Regions from separate parts of the Homo sapiens genome. Here region 2 is linked to region 1. The links come from fine-mapping of genetic effects on gene expression. A gene starts in region 1. The other region holds a variant in brackets. All regions are shown on one strand. Distances are between the middles of the regions.

Region 1 (9,914 bases):
TGGGATTACAGGCGTGAGCCACCATGCCCAGCCTCCATCCTCATTTTAAGAGTTGCTGATAATGAAAAATTATGGCATCAATTTAAGTTATGCTTTCCTTAAGCAATGTTAAAAGAACAATTTTCTTTGGTCACTTGAATTTAACTCCTTTGATATGAATTATTACTCTCATTTGCATTGAGCAAAGCCTACCACTGTCACTTTAGAGGAAAAGGGCAAGTTTAAATATCTATTGGTAAAGTTGGCAAATATTTAAATTAATTTAAACATGGATAATTTACTATATTTTAAATATTTAGTTGGTTAAAAATAAAAACAAATGAGCAAATAACACACACTCTCCATCCCCCCCCAAAAAAGGAGAAAGAAAAGCAATGTAAAGAGGAAGAAGGAAAAGGAAAATAAATTCTGACATTTTCCATTATGGTAACTCATCTTGTCAAATTATTTTATAGGTATTTAATATTCTATTTCTTTAATTTTTTTATATATAACTGACCAAGTTTTAGGGCCAAATAAATTTTTTTTTCTTTTTTGAATGGGGTTGAGAGTCATTTTTTAAAAAGCTACAAATAAGGAGCCAGGTGTGGTGGCTCACGCCTGTAATCCCAGCACTTTGGGAGGCCAAGGCGGGTGGATCACGAGGTCAGGAGATCGAGACCATCCTGGCTAACACTGTGAAACCCCATCTCTACTAAAAATACAAAAAATTAGCCTGGTGTGGTAGCGGGCACCTGTAATCCCAGCTACTCGGGAGGCTGAGGCAGGAGAATCGCTTGAACCTGGGAGGCAGAGGTTGCTGTGAGCCGAGATCACACCACTGCACTCTAGCCTGGGCAACAGAGTGAGGCTCTGTCTCAAAAAAAAAAAAAAAAAAAAAAGCTACTAATAAGGTATTCAAATTTGCATGCCTGTCTTGCCTATAATTATTTAATCAGGCACATGGAAGAGGTAACAAATAAATCTATAATATGAAAGAAATTAGGCTGGGTGCAGCAGCTCACACCTGTAGTCCCAGCATTTTGGGAGGCTGAGGCAGGAGGATGTCATGAGCCCAGGAGTTTGAGACCAACCTGGGCAACATAGTGGGACCCCATCTCTACAATTTTAAAAATTAGCTGGGATGGTGGCACGTGCCTGTAGTCCCAGACACTCGGGAGGCTGGGGTGGGAGGATTCCTTGAGCCTGAGAGGTGGAGACTGCATAAGCCATGATCACACCACTGTACTCCAGCCTGGATGACAGAGTGTGACCTTTTCTCAAGAAAAAAAGAAAAAAAAGAAAGAGAAATTATTAGGTACAATATTTTGCTGTGGATTACTAGTTACAGTAATCTGCATTAGTCATCCATTAATAAAATGCTCTTATCACATTCAAGAAATTGAATTAACATTACATACCACATAAAAAAGACTAAACATGCAAAAATATGTTTGCTAAATTTGATCAGCAGAAGCTTGACCAGAAAAAAATATAAAAGTTTCAGATTTCCTAAATGAGTGGCCTCATCATATTAATAAAATCAGTTTCCATATATGAACATTTTATGTACAGGAGTCCTAATAAGTTTTATCAACTATTCATTCCAACAATAGTCATTTCCCACCTGCATTTCCCAAACTCACCTTTTTTGTTGTTGTTGACTATTTTAAAATTTTATCATTTTTGTCTATTTGAAATATCTCCTTTCTCTTAGAAATTCTGATCCAGGAAGTCTCAAGTTGCAATCTGGGAATCTTTTAAACCACTATTATACTCTACCCACTCCCCGACTTGCCTACTACCCTGAGGAATTTTACAATCAGACAAGTTTGAGAAACAGTACCCAACATCAATCACAGGAGACGGGAAGCAGAACTTTTATTTTTTTAATTTTAACTTAATTTTTATTTTTTGAGATGAAGTCTTGCTTTGTCGCCCAGGCTGGAGTGCAGTGGCGCGATCTGGGCTCACTGCAACCTCTGATTCCTAGGTTCCAGGGATCCTCCAGCCTCAGCCTCCTGAATAGCTGGGACTACAGGTGCTTGCTACCACGCCTGGCTAATTTTTGTATTTTTACTAGAGACGGGGTTTCACCATGTTGGCCAGGCTGGTCTCGAACTCCTAACCTCAAGTGATCCACCTGCCTTGGCCTCCCAAAGTGCAGGGATAACAGGCGTGAGCCACCACGCCAGCCAGAGCCTTTATTTCTAAGCTCTCAGCCAAACACATTAACATAGTTTTATTAACTTCATTACAAGATTCAAAGTATTTTAACAAGAACATTCATAAGGACTCACATCGGGAAAAAGTGCTTATATACACCATCCTCACCTTTAAAAAATGAAGATGACGTTTGTTTTCATTGATCACTTTATATAACATAATTATCTTTTAAGCAATTTCTGTATAACATGAAATAGAATGAGACATTTTCTAACTGTTATTAGAGACAGAATTAAAAAGCAAAATAAATATATAATAACCTTTATAACTTTTGTCTCACAGGCCTTCTATGTCAAACAAGAAATTATCTTTTCATTTTTTTCAGGACTATAACAAGGAAAGCTATAATTTAAATCTATAATAAGGTATATCATTTTAAAGGGCATTAGTCAAAGCTGCAATTTCCAAGCAAGCGGTGGTTTAGTCCAAAAGCTTGAAAAGTGGTAGCTTATTCTACACAAAAAGTACAGTGTAACTCTATGTATTTGACATAATTCTCTTCATGACTAAGCTGACTTCAAAAGTAGTATAAAAATCCATAAAAACTTAAAAATAAAGTAGGCTCTACATAAGAATGGAAACAAATATCTGTATTGAAAAAATGAATTCTTCCATTGCCTTTATTTTTTCCCTTATGTTCTCTATTTTAAAAGGTAAGAATGAGATCACTTAGCTAATTCACCAATCAAGAGTAGTTCAGTGGATTACTTTCATCCTTATACTATTATCAAGTTGAGCAGGGCTGATCCTTATCAACTTTTCTGGCTTCAAAGCTAGGAATCAGTGTAAAAGGGCTAAAAAATCTTTTACTCAACAGATGGGATCCACTTAAGTGGTCTGTCCATACTTTTAACCCACTGTTCTTTTGAAGTGAACACCATCATACAGTGGGCAAACTTCTGCTTATTCAACACTTTAAAAATACCTTTAAAATGAGAAATCTCCAAAAAACAAGCCGTGGTTTCTTATAAGTGTTTTTCACAGATGTACTAAAGTAAGCGTTTCCTTTCACACTCTTTGCGCCTAACCGTCTACATGATAGGGCCAAACCCAGGTTAAATATTTTTTTCCAGCTACCACTCTGGACACACCAACTAATTATGCACACCTCACAAAACCACCTTTCAAAATGCAGAGAGAATTAACAGCAAGGAAGTAAAGATTTTTCTAAATATAGTCCCATCATATTTATTTCACACTCATCAAGTAGGTCACTGGAGGTAGCTGGCAGCTAGGGACACTCAGATGCATCTCTCAAAGCCAAGGCTGAGACCAAGGGGTCACTGACAGCTGCGCCATCTACCTGTTGCAGCTGGGCCACTGCTCTGGACAACTGTCAGATCAGCTTCTTCGTCCTACAAATACTAATGACTGGATTTTTAAAATCGTTGTTTGCCACCCTTTCTTCCCGCCCCCCAACCCCATCGGGCCGCTCGGGCAGGGCCAAGGGCGCCGCGGGACTCACGAGCTCCCCTCCGCGCTGGCTGCAGCGGCGATGCCGGGCATGCCTGGCCGGGCCCGGCCGGGGGCGGCCTCGCTGCCGGGGCAGGGACCTCGCAGGCCGGCGCGCAGAGGCGAGGAACCCTCCCGGCGCCATCGACTCACCTACCCGCGGAGAGGCGACGGCGCGCGCCGCTCACCAGCCCGGGCCCCAGATCCAAGGAGGAGGGGCAGCGGCGCGGGGACCCTGTGGTGGGTGTCGTAAGGAGGAAAACGTGTTACCTAAGCCGGGGATGAGGACAGAGCAGGAGGCAGCAGCCTTTCCCTCGAGAAACGGAAGCGGCGGGGAGCAGGAGGAGGAGGAGGCGCGGCCCGGGCGCGAGGTTAGGCGAGGGGCGCTGGGCGTGCGGCCGCAGGCGCGGCCAGAGGACGAGGGTTGGGGAGGACGGCGGAGGTCACGCGAGCGAAGGCGAAGCCCCGGCGACGCACGGCCCCGCTTGGCTCGGCACCGGATCCGAGCTTGGCCTCAGCCAGGCCGCCGCCCCCGGCTTTCCCGCGGGACCGCGGCGTGGAAACGCGCGCTGCCGCCTCGGGGCTCCCGGGACGCGCGGGCCCCCCACGCCTGCCCGAGCCGGGCGTCCGCGACGTCACAAGTGGAGCGCGATGATTCAGAGGGAGGGCCAGGAAGGGAAGGGCTCTGGGGTCAGCTTGGCCACGGCTGCTGTTTCCTTGTCGCCGCCCACGAATTCACTTTTAAATCTTCCTCCTCCATTCATCTGTACTCTCATAGGGGACTGCGGGTTTGACAGATGGGTTGGCAGCTGTGAAGATGGACTTCCTGCCAGTGGTATCCGGGTCCCACTGTTCTAATGGAAATGTCAGGTGTACTGGATGTTCCTCAAGACACAGCAGTGTCTCTGGGCCTTGCCTCTTAAGGAGTGGGCCTCGGGCCACCTGGACAGGAAGCGCATCAAGGGTGGGGAACTTATCTCTCTCCAGCCTTTGGTGCTGTGATACTCAGTGTACCTTAAGGATGGTTTGGGTTGAACCTAGGTAGGAATGGGTGTTGGTGGGCGGGGTGGGGGTGGGGGGAATAGAAACCTTAAAAGGGCAACACAAAGTTTTGAATAGAAGAGGCCAAGCAGCCTCGCCCAGAAGCTGATGTTTGTGAATGTACTGGGCCTTCTAAAGCGGCGCTTCACACACCTTTTCACTTCTTGGCACAGGTAGGAAAGGATGATATTACAAGGGTCAAAATGGGGGTAAACAGAAGAGGCTGCTCCTGCAGAAGGCTTCCTGCAGAAGCCCTTGCACTTGGAGGGCTGGGAAGACCCATGCTGTATCTGCATCCCTGTCATTCGTTTCACGGCATCCAGTTGGGAAGCTCTGCTTAAAGCTTTGTCTGGCACGTTTTCTTAGCTACATTTTTCCACTCCAGCTGAGACTGCCTCACTGAGTTGTCAACACTTGGTCTTCTTCAGCAGTGAGGAACCAACAAGACAGGAGGCTGGGTCAATACTCAACTTGGCAAACTCCAGGAAATGGTGCTTAAAACGTTTGGCTTCTTGAATGGAATTCATGGTACTGCTCCCAGCCTGCACCTGGGTTCTCCAACTTGAGACAATTTCTCCCCGCATCCCCCCACCCTTCCCTGGCTTTCACTCACTAGCAAGTGGGCTGCTTCTACTTTCTTTCTCACATTCATTTCTTAGGTCCATTCTCAGAGCGGTTAGGATTACTGTTTAATTAGCCTCATAATCATATCTATGATGGCAAAATCAAGAAACAATTTAAACATGATTCTTAAAAGTAAGGAGATAAATACCAGAGACATAGAAGGTGAAAGAATTTGCCTCTAGGAAGCAGGAATTTAAATTTGGGGAAGACAGGGTGGAGCAAGGGATATAAATCTAGTCCATTTTTCTTTTCTTTTCTTTTCTTTTTTTTTTATTTTTAAGATAGAGTCTCACTCTGTCGCCCAGGCTGGAGTGCAGTGGCATGATCTTGGCTCACTGCAACCTCTGCCTCCTTCGTTCAAGCGATTCTCCCACCTCAGCCTCCCTAGTAACTGGGATTACAAGTGACTGCCACTATGCCCAGCTAATTTTGTATTTTTAGTAGAGACGAGGTTTCACCATGTTGGCCAGGCTGGTCTCGAACTCCTGACCTCAGGGGATCCGCCCAGCTCAGCCTCCCAAAGTGCTAGGATTCCAGGCGTGAGCCACTGCACCTGGCGGAATCTAGTCCATTTTCCACTTTGCTACCACACATCTGCAGGGTTTCTTGCTTGCTTAAAAGCTTTCATTGGCTCCCAATCTCTGATAATATCAAGAGCAAGTTCCTGAACAACTCATTCAAGACCCATCACCCCTCGCATCTGTCAACTCTGCCCCTTGAATATTACACCTCATTTTACTACACCACATCTAGTTCCCTGAATATGCAAACAGATTTCATACATTTGCACCTTTATACATGTTATTGCTTTTGCCTGGGAGAGTATTCTCTTGCTGCTATAATAATAGCTAATGACACTGTGCTAAGTACTTTCTGTGATTTATAACTGTTAATTCTTACATCAACCCTATGGTAAATGTTACTGTTATCTCCATTTTATAAACAAGAAAACTAAGACTTAAAGAGTTTAAGTGATTTGCAGAAATATGTAGTATTTGGTGAGGCTAAATTTGAACCCAGCAATCTGACTCCAGGACTAACATAATATTACCTATTCATCCTTCTAAAATGTTTCCCAGACACTAAATTTGAACAGGATTAAAAGATTTAAATGTTTTTAAGTCTTAAAAGGGCAAGGAGAAAATACAAGTGAATTGCTTTTAATCTCAAACTAAGCATGAAACAACGGCTGAAATTACAAAGGAAAAGTGACAGATCTGACTGTTGAACTTTTAACTTCTTTTATCCAAAAAAAAACCCCATAGAATAAAATTTAAAAACAAGTAAAAATTACAAAAAATTTGCAATATACATGACAGATAAGCATAACATTAAAGAGAACTTAGAAAGAAAAAATAGCCTACTAAAAATGAGCAAAATGCAAATTCGTCATCATGAGAGAAAAATGTAAATGGCCAAACATTTTTAAGAGAAGTAAAAACTTAAAACGATAATGCACCATCAAATTGAGAATAAAATAATACTCAGAGCTAGTAATTTGGGCCAGTGACCCTTGGAGTAGGATGTATAGCAACTAAAGAAACTCATACATTACTGAGAAGGGTGTAAATTGGCTCAACGATTCTGGAGAGCAATTTGACAGAATGTAGTGAAAGCGTCAAAAATGTTCACACACTTTGACTTAAAAATTACATTCCTGGAAATTTATAATACAAACATTTTCTATAAAAGGTCAGATGGCAAATACTTTGGGCTTTGAAGGCCACATATGTCTCTGTGGCTTTTCTTTTGTGTGTGTGTTTAAAAAAAAAAAAAACTGCCCCCCCTCCCCCCACCCTTGTTAGGCCATTCTTGCATTACTATAAAGAAATACCTGAGGCTGGTTAATTTATATGAAAAGAGGTTTAACTGGCTCATGGTTCTGCAGGCTGTACAGGAAGCATAATGCCATCTGCTTCTGGGGGGGCCTCAGGAAGCTTCCAATCATGCTGGAAGGTGATGGGGAGCAGATGTCTCACATGGTGAGAACGGGAGCAAGAAGGAGTTGGGGGGGAGGAGCCACATAAACAATGAGATCCCTGTGAGCTCAGAGTGAGAGCACACTTATCACCAAGGAGATGGCCCAAGCTATTCATGAGGGATCCGCCCCTATGATCCAAACACCTCCCACCAGGCTCCACCTCCAACACTGGAGATTATATCTCAACATGAAATTTGAATGGGACATCCAAACTGTATCACCCCCAAAATGTAAAGTCTCATCACAGTACATTTGGTAATGGCCAAAAGAGAAACCAAACTAAATGTCCGAGAATAAAAATTAGTTACAACTAGATACACGGAGGCAAGTTTTTAAAAAGTGTTAAAATTTTAAAATGTTGCAGAATGGTATCTATTGGATAAAATAGTATTTATGATTTATTAAGTGGAAAATACAGTTTACAAAATAATATGGTGTGATCCCGAAAACAACATAATCATGTGTGTATAAATGCATAGAAAAAAATCTGGAAAGATATAAACAGATATTTATAGTGGTCTAGGGCAGGGGATGGAATTGTAGATATTTGCTTTTTGTTTTATGTATATGTTTCCCATAATGAAATGTATTGTTTATATAATTAAAAAATATACGAAACTTTGCTTGGGGGACAACAAAGCACCTCATTTGTTAATTTGGGAAAATCTTTTATTACAATCTCTGTAAGGAGTTGGTTGCTCTCTCTTCTGTACTCCCTGATTACATAATGCTCTTCTGAGCACTTTTATTTAATAGCAGAATGGTTGATATCATTATTTAGTTAAGGTTTCCTCTATTATCGAACATCTGAGTTCCCAGTACACTAGTCTCCCCTTATCTGTGGTTTTGCTTCCAAGGTTTCAGTTATGATCAACCAAGATCTGAAAATATTAAATGAAAAATTCCAGAAATAAAACAATTCATAAGTTTTACATTGTGCACCATCCTGCTGTATCCTGTCCAGGCCATGGGTCATCCCTCTTGTTCAGTGTGTCCACACTGTAGATGCTCCCCTGTCTGTTAGTCACTTTGTAGTTGGCTTGGTTGTCAGACCTACTGTCAAGGTATTGCAGTACTTATGTCCAAGTAACACTTATTTAACTTAATAATGGCCCCTAAACACAAGAGTAGTAATGTTGGCAATTTGGGTATGCCAAAGAAAAGTCATAAAGTGCTTCTTTTAAGTGAAAACCCAAAAGTTTTTGAATTAGTAAGGAAAGAAAAAAATCCATATGCTGAGGTCGCTAAGATCTATGATAAGAATGAATCTTCTACCTGTGAAATTGTGAAGGAAAAAGAAATTCACGTTAGTTTTGCTGTTGTACCTCAAACTGCAAAAGTTATGGCCACAGTGTATAACTTTTATTAAAATATATTTGTATAACTGTTCTTATTTTACTTTTCTGTTTTATTTTTAGAGACAGGGCTTCATTCTGTCACCCAGGCTGGAGTGCAAAGGTGCAATCATAGCTCACTGCAGCCTCAAACTCTTTGGCTCAAGTGATCTTCCTGCCTCAGCCTCCCAAGTAGCTGGGACTGCAGGTGTGCATCACTACGCCCAGCTAATTTTTTAATTTTTTGTGCAGATGGAGTCTGACTCTGTTGCCCAGGAACTCCTGGCCTCAAGTAATCCTCCCGCCTCGGTTTTCCAAAGAGCTGGGATTACAGGCATGAGCCACTGTGCCTGGCTATTCTATTTTATTAGCAGTAATTGTTGTTAATCTCTTATTGTGCCTTATTTATATTAATAACTTAATCATAGATAGATATGTATAGGAAAAAACATTGTATATAAAGGGTTCAGTACTATCTGCAGTTTCAGATATCCATGAGGGGTCTTGAAACGTATCCCCCACAGGTAAGGGGGGACTTGTATTTCTCTGTTATAAATATGCTGGTTATTCTCCACTTGTTGTGTTTTAGTGCCATCTTCTGCTCTTCTCTGCTAGACTCTGTGCCTCAGAAGGTGGAATTTTTCATAAACTATTCCAGCTGGGGTCTCATGCCAGTTGGTTTTGACCAATGGGTAACACCATCAGTAGATTGGAGGATGGAAAAGGAAAAAAGGTTAGGATATGTTTCACCACCTCTTTTCCTGCTTCTGGCTGGGTTCTGATGGTGGCTTTGTCCCTTGAAGGCTCCTCCTGCAAGGCAGCCCTGCTCCACTGTGCCAGCCTTCACTGGGCTCTACTAACGTGATTCCCTCCCCTTATTTCTTCAGGCCTAGCTGTGCTAACTCCTAGGTACCTCCATGTTTCTTGTTTCCTTTCATCCAACCCTAACCCTAACTTCTATAAATAGTTCCCGCAATAAAGTCTCTTCAGCTGAAACATCTGAGTGGAAATTGATTCCTGTTATGACAGACTAAATATACTAAAGGAAACAGTTGATCATCATAGAACACAAATCTTTTATCCTTACTGCAACAGGGCCTGGATATTTGCAGATTTTATATCCGAGCTTTGAACTATTTGCAAGGTAATTATAGAGTGATTTACACATTTCCTGAAACAGGGATTTAAGTTTATGCTGTGAGGCTAGTGTTTGGGAATATAACACTCTGACTATTCTCCACTTCTCCGGTAGTTTTTGAGAAGTAATGCTCCATTGC
Region 2 (8,000 bases), 24 kb before region 1:
TGTTTTTCATTACTCATGTCACTTTCAAACTTAATGATACGAAGAAATACACAATTCATCATAACATGGTGAATCTTAACACCTTTAAGTCTAGGAATAGATATCAGGTAGCTAGTTTATTTCAGAAAGTTACTTATATGCATGCAGCTGCCTGAGTTGTTGCAATTAGAAATGCTTTCAATTTTATGGCATTATCACATCAATCTAGGACAACACTAAAACATTTATGGGGTTTCCAGCTTCCAGAACCATTGCAAAATTTCATTACAACTTTTAGTATTTAAAGTTTAGTAGGGAAAAAGGAATAGAAAAGTGATATCTCTTTTTGATCTGCAAATATTCTACAATCCCTATAACAAGTTTTTCTTTATTTGGTAACTCCTTTTCATTCTCTTATTCACTAGTTTCACGTTGGCTTCCAACACAAAGAAAGATGGACTCAATGTTATTAGTTTTGGCAACCACAATAATTATAGCACCTTCCCTTTATCAATGCTTAACTTACTGTCTATGTTGTTACATATTTACAGATAAGGAAACAGGCTTAGAGAAAGTAAGTAGCTTGCTGAGGCCCACTCAGCTAGAAAGTGGTAGAATCTGCATTCAAACCCACAAAGTCTCACTCTGAATCTGTGCCATAAACTATTTTGTTGACCACCTCCATTTCTAGGCCATGATTATGTCTGCATATTGTTCCAATTCTTTTTAATTTCTTATTAACCTTTTAAAGATAGCAGAAACCTATTTTTAGTTTGGAAGATGGTGGGGGTAGGGGGAAAATATTAAAACTTAAGAGGTATAAACTTATGACTATTAAAGAGCAAATGATTGTTACTTGAAGCAGCTCAGGTTCAATAAAAATATGTAATCCTATATAAGTGAAAAAATATGACCTATTTCAATAAAAAGCTGAACTGCTTGTTCCACCTGGACTTTGCCATGCCCTGGAGTCAACCCCAAAGCACAGGCCATGGATCAGAGGCAGCTGAGTCCTGGCCACTTTCTACGCTCTGTTTAAGAGTGCATGGAAGAGTGGAAGGGAGGAGGCAGAAAGGGAGTGTGAGTTAGGTTCTGATCCTGGCCATGCCTACCAATCTTTTCATTGGATAATTTTCACATTTTGTTTTGAACTTCTAAAATTATACCAAAGTTCAACTGGCTATACAGCGATGGCAGCTGTCTTATTCCCAATGTATTGGAAGGCAGTGTTACCACCACTCTACTTATCTGGTTTTGAGTGGATTCTAGAAACAGGGAACAGGATTACTATATTCCAAATGTAAAACTATGATTTCTACAGGATAGTATTAATTTTAAAATTTCTACCAGCATGCACTTGGCCTGAAATAAAATTACGCAAATCCAAGATTGAAAATAGAACTTTAATTCAAATACGCAGACTTTCAATGGCAACACTCCCATGTGTTAAGTCATGGGAATGTCATATAGTGATAATCCTAACAACAAGCAAAGCTGAGGTCGTAAGTTCTAACAACCATAATATACCAAAAATATTTGCCTTTTACCTGAGGGTGTTTGGATCTCGTGACACAAAAGGTTGATTGATGACTCCCATCAGGGGAACCCCTGTCTGTATGTCATAGACACCAATTAAAATGGTGACACACTGAAGTCCACAGGGGAAGATTCCCTGGTTGGATTTAATGTCAGCAGAACCTTTTATATACTGATAAGTTGAATCTGAAAAAGGAAACAAATGTGTTTGGATTCAGGTAAAGATCATTTAGAAGACTCTGTTCCATATGACTTCTCTCTTCTACTGATTTGGTAACCAATAATTTTTTACCTTTGGATGTCACTGTATTGAATTGTTATTTGGCCTCTTGTACTTTACTTTTAAATTGCTTGTGTTTCATTTTCCTGACTGTGAGAACTCTTGAAGGGAGAGGATGTGTCTATAGTTCCTGTGGCATAGCAATTTGTATATAACAGGCATTCAAATATTTGTTACTTATCAAAAGCATTGAAAAAGTAATAACCAGAATAATTGGTGGGATTATTTTAGAAATACTACTAATCAGAGGACTAGTACAATGTGAGATGGAAAAGCCTCCTTCCAATGGGTGAAAAAAAAAGACCTACTATTTGATAGCACAATAGGGTAACTATAATCAATAAGAACTTAACTGTACATTTTAAAATAAAGAGTGTAACTAGATTGTTTATTACTCAAAGGATAAATGCTCAAAGGGATGGATACCCCATTCTCTATGATGTGCTTATCTCACATTGTGTGCCTGTGTCAAAACATCTCATCTACCCCATAAATATATACACCTATTATGTACCCACAAACATTTTAAAAAGGAAAAGAAAAAAAGAAAAGCCCCCCTCCTGTAATAGGTCACAGGTAATATTATCTTTTACTATTATTATTTGGTCCCTCAAGTTAGAAGGAAGAAAGAGACAATGATGGTGGCACCAAAAAAAGAAATTAACGGAGCTCCTATGAAACAGAGGCAGAGAAACTAGGTTTCCCCTTAAGAGATGTACATGCCAGCAGCTGACTGCTGACGTCTAGGGAGTCAACACACGGCTAAGGATGTGCCTGGCAAAAGACTCAAAGAGCTCAAAAACAGAATCAATTCAGGGTGGAACCAAGAAACAGGAGATCTCTGTCCCTCAGAAACTATAACTGATGCCAATTTACCCTTAAATGATCAAAGATTTGGGGAAAGGTTTTTAGTTTCCATATATCATCCACTGGCTGAATGTGATATAATTATCTGAAGATTAAACCCATTTCAGTATCATCCTGTGAATGCACTTGTAGGATGGGAAGGGCCCAGAGAGGAGTTTGCCTGGTCCTTGAATGGTCCCATTGTGTTGGGTGGGGAAGAAAAAAAAGGAAGGGGGAGCTTATTAAAATTATTACCTAGAACTTGTATTAATAGCATCATTGAAGATAAAGGCTGGCTGGGCATGGTAGGTCATGCCTGTAATCATCCTAGCACTTTAGGAGGCCAAGGCAGGCAGATCGCTTGAACCCAGGAGTTCGAGACCAGCCTGGGAAACATGGTAAAAACCCCTTCTCTAAAAACAATATAAAAAATTAGCCTAGTGAGGTGGCATGCAACTCTGCCACCTACTTGGGTCCCAGCTACTTGGGAAGCTGAGATAGGAGGATTGCTTGAGCTCAGGAGGACAAGGCTGCAGTGAGTGAGTTCTGACTGTGCCACTGCACTCCAGCCTGTGTGCAACACGAGACTCTGTCTCAAAAAAAAGGGTTACATTTTCAAAACAATGGATTATACATTATGGTTCTATCACAATCATGACCAAAAAAAATGTAGAGCTCATGCAGGGCTCACAAACTGCTCATGCGTCACATTCAGCTTTTTGCTTGACCTGTACTGTGTTTTTTTGATTGTTTCCTTCTTTAACTGAATTAGTAGCTAACGGTTAGAAATTGGGATATATCGCTGAAAACCTTGGATTTTGGTTTCTCTTTAAAAATCTGAAGAGCTGGCCTGTACTCCCATATGGTAACAATCTGCTAAAGCTAAGTGCTCTTTAAATGGTATGTGTGCTCAATTGGTCATAACTGCTCTCACTTCATTCTCTCATTTACTTACCAGTCTGGTCCCTGAAGTCTTTTGAAGAGAAGTTAATTCATCTTTGCATGTGTGCCTGTATGTATGTGTGTGTATATACACACACCTGTTATAGATATGTATATATATACACACGGCTATAATATATATGTATATATACAGAACACATGACACATACACCTCAACTCTCATTGTTTTAAAACTTTAAAATTTTAAAAACTTCTAGCAGAGTTAAACTACACTCAATAATTTTTATTTTTCCAACACCCATCCCCAACCCCACCACCAAAAAAAAGATTGCAAATAAGAACAAACATACTTTCCTATACTTACCTATGGGGTCCACCCAAATTCCCAAAATGTCCTGTGGAACATTGATCTCTGTGGAATCCAGAGTTGGGTCAGTAAAGGCAACATCCTGATGAACAACCCTGGCTAATGCTTCAGATGC[C/T]ACCTTGTTACCATTGAGGACTTTGCTAAGAAGCTCTGCTGTTTCCTCCTCTGTTGAACACAACCTCAAGGTAATCTTTTCCCCTAGGGTAAAGCCACACGATAAGCCATTACATTTCAAGAGTTTCAGTGGAGAAAGAACAGAGAGAGAGAGCTAAAGAGTGAGAGAGACAGAGAGAGCGAGAGAGAGAGACAGAGAGAGAGCGAGAGACACAGAGAGCGAGACAGAGCGAAAGAGCGAGAGAGACAGAGCAAGAGAGTGAGAGAGAGACACACAGAGAGAGCGAGAGACACAGCAAAAGAGCGAGAGACAGAGAGAGCAAGACAGAGAGAGTGAGACAGAGTGAGACAGAGTGAGACAGAGTGAGAGCAAGAGAGACAGACAGGGAGAGTGAAAGAGACAGAGCAAAAGAGTGAGACAGAGCAAGCAAGAGAGAGACAGAGCGAGAGAGTGAGACAGAGAGAGTGAGACAGAGCGAGAGAGACAGAGAGCGAGAGAGAGACAGGAAGAGTGAAAGAGACAGAGGGAAAGAGTGAGACAGAGAGCAAGCAAGAGAGAGACAGAGCGAGAGAGCGAGACAGAGCAAGAGACAGAGAGCAAGAGACAAAGAGCGAGAGAGACAGCGAAAGAGCGAGAGAGAGCAAGAGAGACAGAGCGAGACAGAGAGCGAGAGATTCAGGGAGAGACTGAGAGAGACAGAGTGAAAGAGACAGAGAGACAGAGAGAGCAAAAGAGTGAGACAGAGAGCGAGCGAGAGAGAGCGAGACAGAGCGAGAGAGCGAGAGAGAGCGAGACAGAGCGAGAGAGCGAGAGAGAGCAAAAGAGTGAGACAGACAGTGAGCGAGAGACAGTGAGACAGAGCAAGAGAGCGAGACAGAGCAAGAGACACAGAGAGAGACAGAGCAAGAGAGACAGAGAGCGAGAGAGACAGCGAGAGAATGAGACAAAGATTGAGACAGAGAGAGCGAGAGAGCAAGCAAGAGAGACAGAGAGAGAGTGAGCCAGTGAGAGAGTGAATCAAAAGCTGTGCACTTAGATTGAGGGCAATATATCCATCCCAGCAGTTCCTATGCCTGGCTGACTGCCAGAATCACCTGGTGGGGCTTCATCAAGTCAGATGCTCAGTGGCTACCCAGGCACTTAACCTGAATAGTAAGAGATGGGTTTCAGGAATCAAAAGACCTCCCTAGAAAAATGCCCATGTGGGCACAATTTTGTATCCCAGTTAAGGGATACATAGGCCAGTTAACAATTCCTGAATTCCTGATCATTAATCTTTTTAAAATTTGTCTTTTGACTTTTTATATACTTAAGTCACCCTGTCCGTGTCTGAATATGTTATTGAAAAGAATGGAGGTTTTTCAACACACCGAAGTGCTTCTACCTCCTTATATGATATTGCTTTTAACTTAAAATTGTTTATGCTAAGTAACATAAAATGGTATATACCAATCTTTAAATGTAGTAAAACTTTATGCCTCTAAATGGTATACATATAAATAGCTCTCCTCTGTGGAGCCCATTGAGAACCAGAACATAAGCAAAGCTGCTTCTTCAAATGAAACGATAAGTTACCGAGGCCAGGTGCTTTACCATCGCTTTAAACATGCTTCTTAGACCCTTGATTAATCTGGTTTCAGCCCTTGACAGAAGTGAGGGAAGAGGCTGGTAAAAAATAGGCAAGTTAATAGCAACAAGAAGTGACAGCAGTGGAGGAAAAAAAATCTTAAAAACTAAGAAAACATGGCACTTTGGAACGTTTTAGATACTCCTAGCTATCTAGTAGCTATCTAGGTAGCTACTTCTACCCTTCTTATTCCAAGGACCAGCAGTGTCTATATCAGCTGGGAGCTTATTAGAAAGTCAGAACCTTAGGCTGAGCGTGGTGGCTCATGCCTGTAATCCCAGTACTTTAGGAGGCTGAGGTAAGCAGATCACTTGAGGTCAGGAATTCAAGACCACCCTGGTCAACATAGTGAAACCCCTGTCTCTAATAAAAGTATAAAAAAATTAGCTAGGCGTGGTGGCAGGTAGCTTAGCATGTCTGTAATCCCAGCTACTTGGGAGGCTGAGGCAGGAGAATCGCTTGAATTTGGGAGGCGGAGGCTGCAGTGAGCCAAGATTGTGCCACTGCACTCCAGCCTGGGCAACAGAGGGAGACTCCATCTAACAAAAAAAAAAAAAAAATCAGAACCTCAGATGCCACCCCAGACCTACTGAAATTTTTTTTTTTTTTGAGACGGAGTCTTGCTCTGTCACCCAAGCTGGAGTGCAGTGGTGCGATCTCCGCTCACTGCAAGCTCCGCCTCCCGGGTTCACGCCATTCTCCTGCCTCAGCCTCCTGAGTATCTGGGACTACAGGCGCCCGCCACCACGCCCGGCTAATTTTTTTGTATTTTTTAAGTAGAGACGGGGTTTCACCGTGTTAGCCAGGATGGACTCAATTTCCTGACCTTGTGATCCACCCGCCCTGGCCTCCCAAAGTGCTGGGATTACAGGCGTGAGCCACCGCGCCCGGCCGACCTACTGAATTTTAACCAAGATCCTGAGGCGATTACATGACCAGTAAAGTGTGGGAAGCACAATATACATCTATTACAGTGATGACTGAATCAGCAAGAAACAGTCAAATTTAGTTAAATTAACTTAATTCAAAGTAAATTAGACTGTTAAAGTTGGGGAATAATAAAGCTAATAATGGCTACTTACTGCACACCTACTCTGGGCTCAGTAAAACTTATGGGATCATTCAAAGGAAGAAATTATATCACTCCTTTGCTTGAAATTTGCCAGAGACCTCCCATCCCACTGAGAGGGAAATCTAAATCCCTTCCTATGATCTGGTCTTGCCTGCAATATCATCATCACCATCTCTCCTCTTCCTCTCTCCACATTTCTCTGCCCTTTTAACAAACAGGAAAATGGATGTGGCTATGCCTTTTGCCTCTATAATTCTAGACAAATGATGTATTAAAATAGCTGTTTGTGAAGTAGTCAAGCGTAGATTTTTAAATGTAAGATTGCTTATAAGTCAGGCATAAGTGTTATTTTTAACCTTCAGAGGTTTAAAAGATTTCTTTCCCGTATTACTAACATAGAACTAACTGCATCTTAATATGTGGTGCATGAAGGAGACTAAAAAATTTTCAGAGTTAATCTAGAAACTCATTTTTTCTTTGTAATTGTGTTTCTAGATATATAAGTATTTGTCACATGATCAGTATTTAATGTTCACTATTTTATTCTTCTACTATTAAATCCAAACAAACTAAAAAAAAAAATTGTTTCTCTGAAAGAAATCAGATTACCTGAGGTCAGGAGTTTGAGACCAGCCTGGCCAACATGGTGAAATCCCATCTCTAACTAAAAATACAAAAATTAGCCAGGTGTGGTGGCACATGCTTGTAATCCCAGCCACTCAGGAGGATGAGGCAGGAGAATGGCTTGAATCCAGGAGGTGGAGGTTGCAGTGAACCGAGATTGTGCCACTGCACTCCAGCCTGGGCAACAGAGCAACTCTGTCTCAAAAACAAACAAACAAACCAAAAAACTTAGTACTAAAAGGAATCTTTTAGTTAATCCAAGTACTTCACAGAGGTTCTGAGACTTAGAGAAATGATGAGTTAATTTGCTCAAGATCACACAGTATTTCAGAACCATGGCCACCTCTGTACTTTTAGCCAAGGTCCATGGACTTCCCCCAAGAGCGCACAGATGGGTTTAAACCTAGGATCTGAAATTGTCTGCATAATTTTGTAGATGGGCATCTTTGGGGCATTAATAACTTACATTAGATTCCCAAAGGGCCATGCAATTTTCCCAAAGCTTGAGTTATAAGTTACTTAAATGCCACAGATTTATATCTAAAATGATACATGGACTTGCTAAATTATTCTAAGATACCACATCTCTCTACTTAAGTTAAATGGCATGATATTCTGAGGTAGAAATTGAATGAACCTTAACATTCAAAT

Direction of the effects. Alleles are on the strand shown, and positions count from the first base shown. SD is a standard deviation of normalised expression in the study named.
In carriers of allele T in region 2, the expression in cerebellar hemisphere of the gene that starts at base 4,300 in region 1 tends to be higher than with C alone (large effect, 0.87 SD a copy in GTEx).

What was found.
Region 2: its variant is fine-mapped to the expression of INPP1 in cerebellar hemisphere (GTEx, PIP 0.99). The same link has a PIP of 0.9 or more in sigmoid colon and tibial nerve.

What each region holds. Positions count from the first base shown.
Region 1 is chr2:190,337,975-190,347,888 of GRCh38, reverse strand. INPP1 (inositol polyphosphate-1-phosphatase) reads right to left here and starts at 4,300. Exons shown (of 7, transcript NM_001128928.2): 1 at 3,928-4,300. It overlaps LOC124906109 (serine/arginine repetitive matrix protein 1), which reads left to right and starts at 2,840. Exons shown (of 1, transcript XM_047446773.1): 1 at 2,840-9,633. The coding sequence starts at 3,573. The coding sequence ends at 4,451. RefSeq lists silencers at 3,605-3,934, 4,005-4,314.
Region 2 is chr2:190,362,804-190,370,803 of GRCh38, reverse strand. It overlaps INPP1 (inositol polyphosphate-1-phosphatase), which reads right to left. Exons shown (of 7, transcript NM_001128928.2): 5 at 3,909-4,109; 6 at 1,527-1,701. Among named protein-coding and RNA genes, the nearest start is that of INPP1, 23 kb to the right of the region's middle. The variant C/T (reference allele first, on the strand shown) is at 4,027.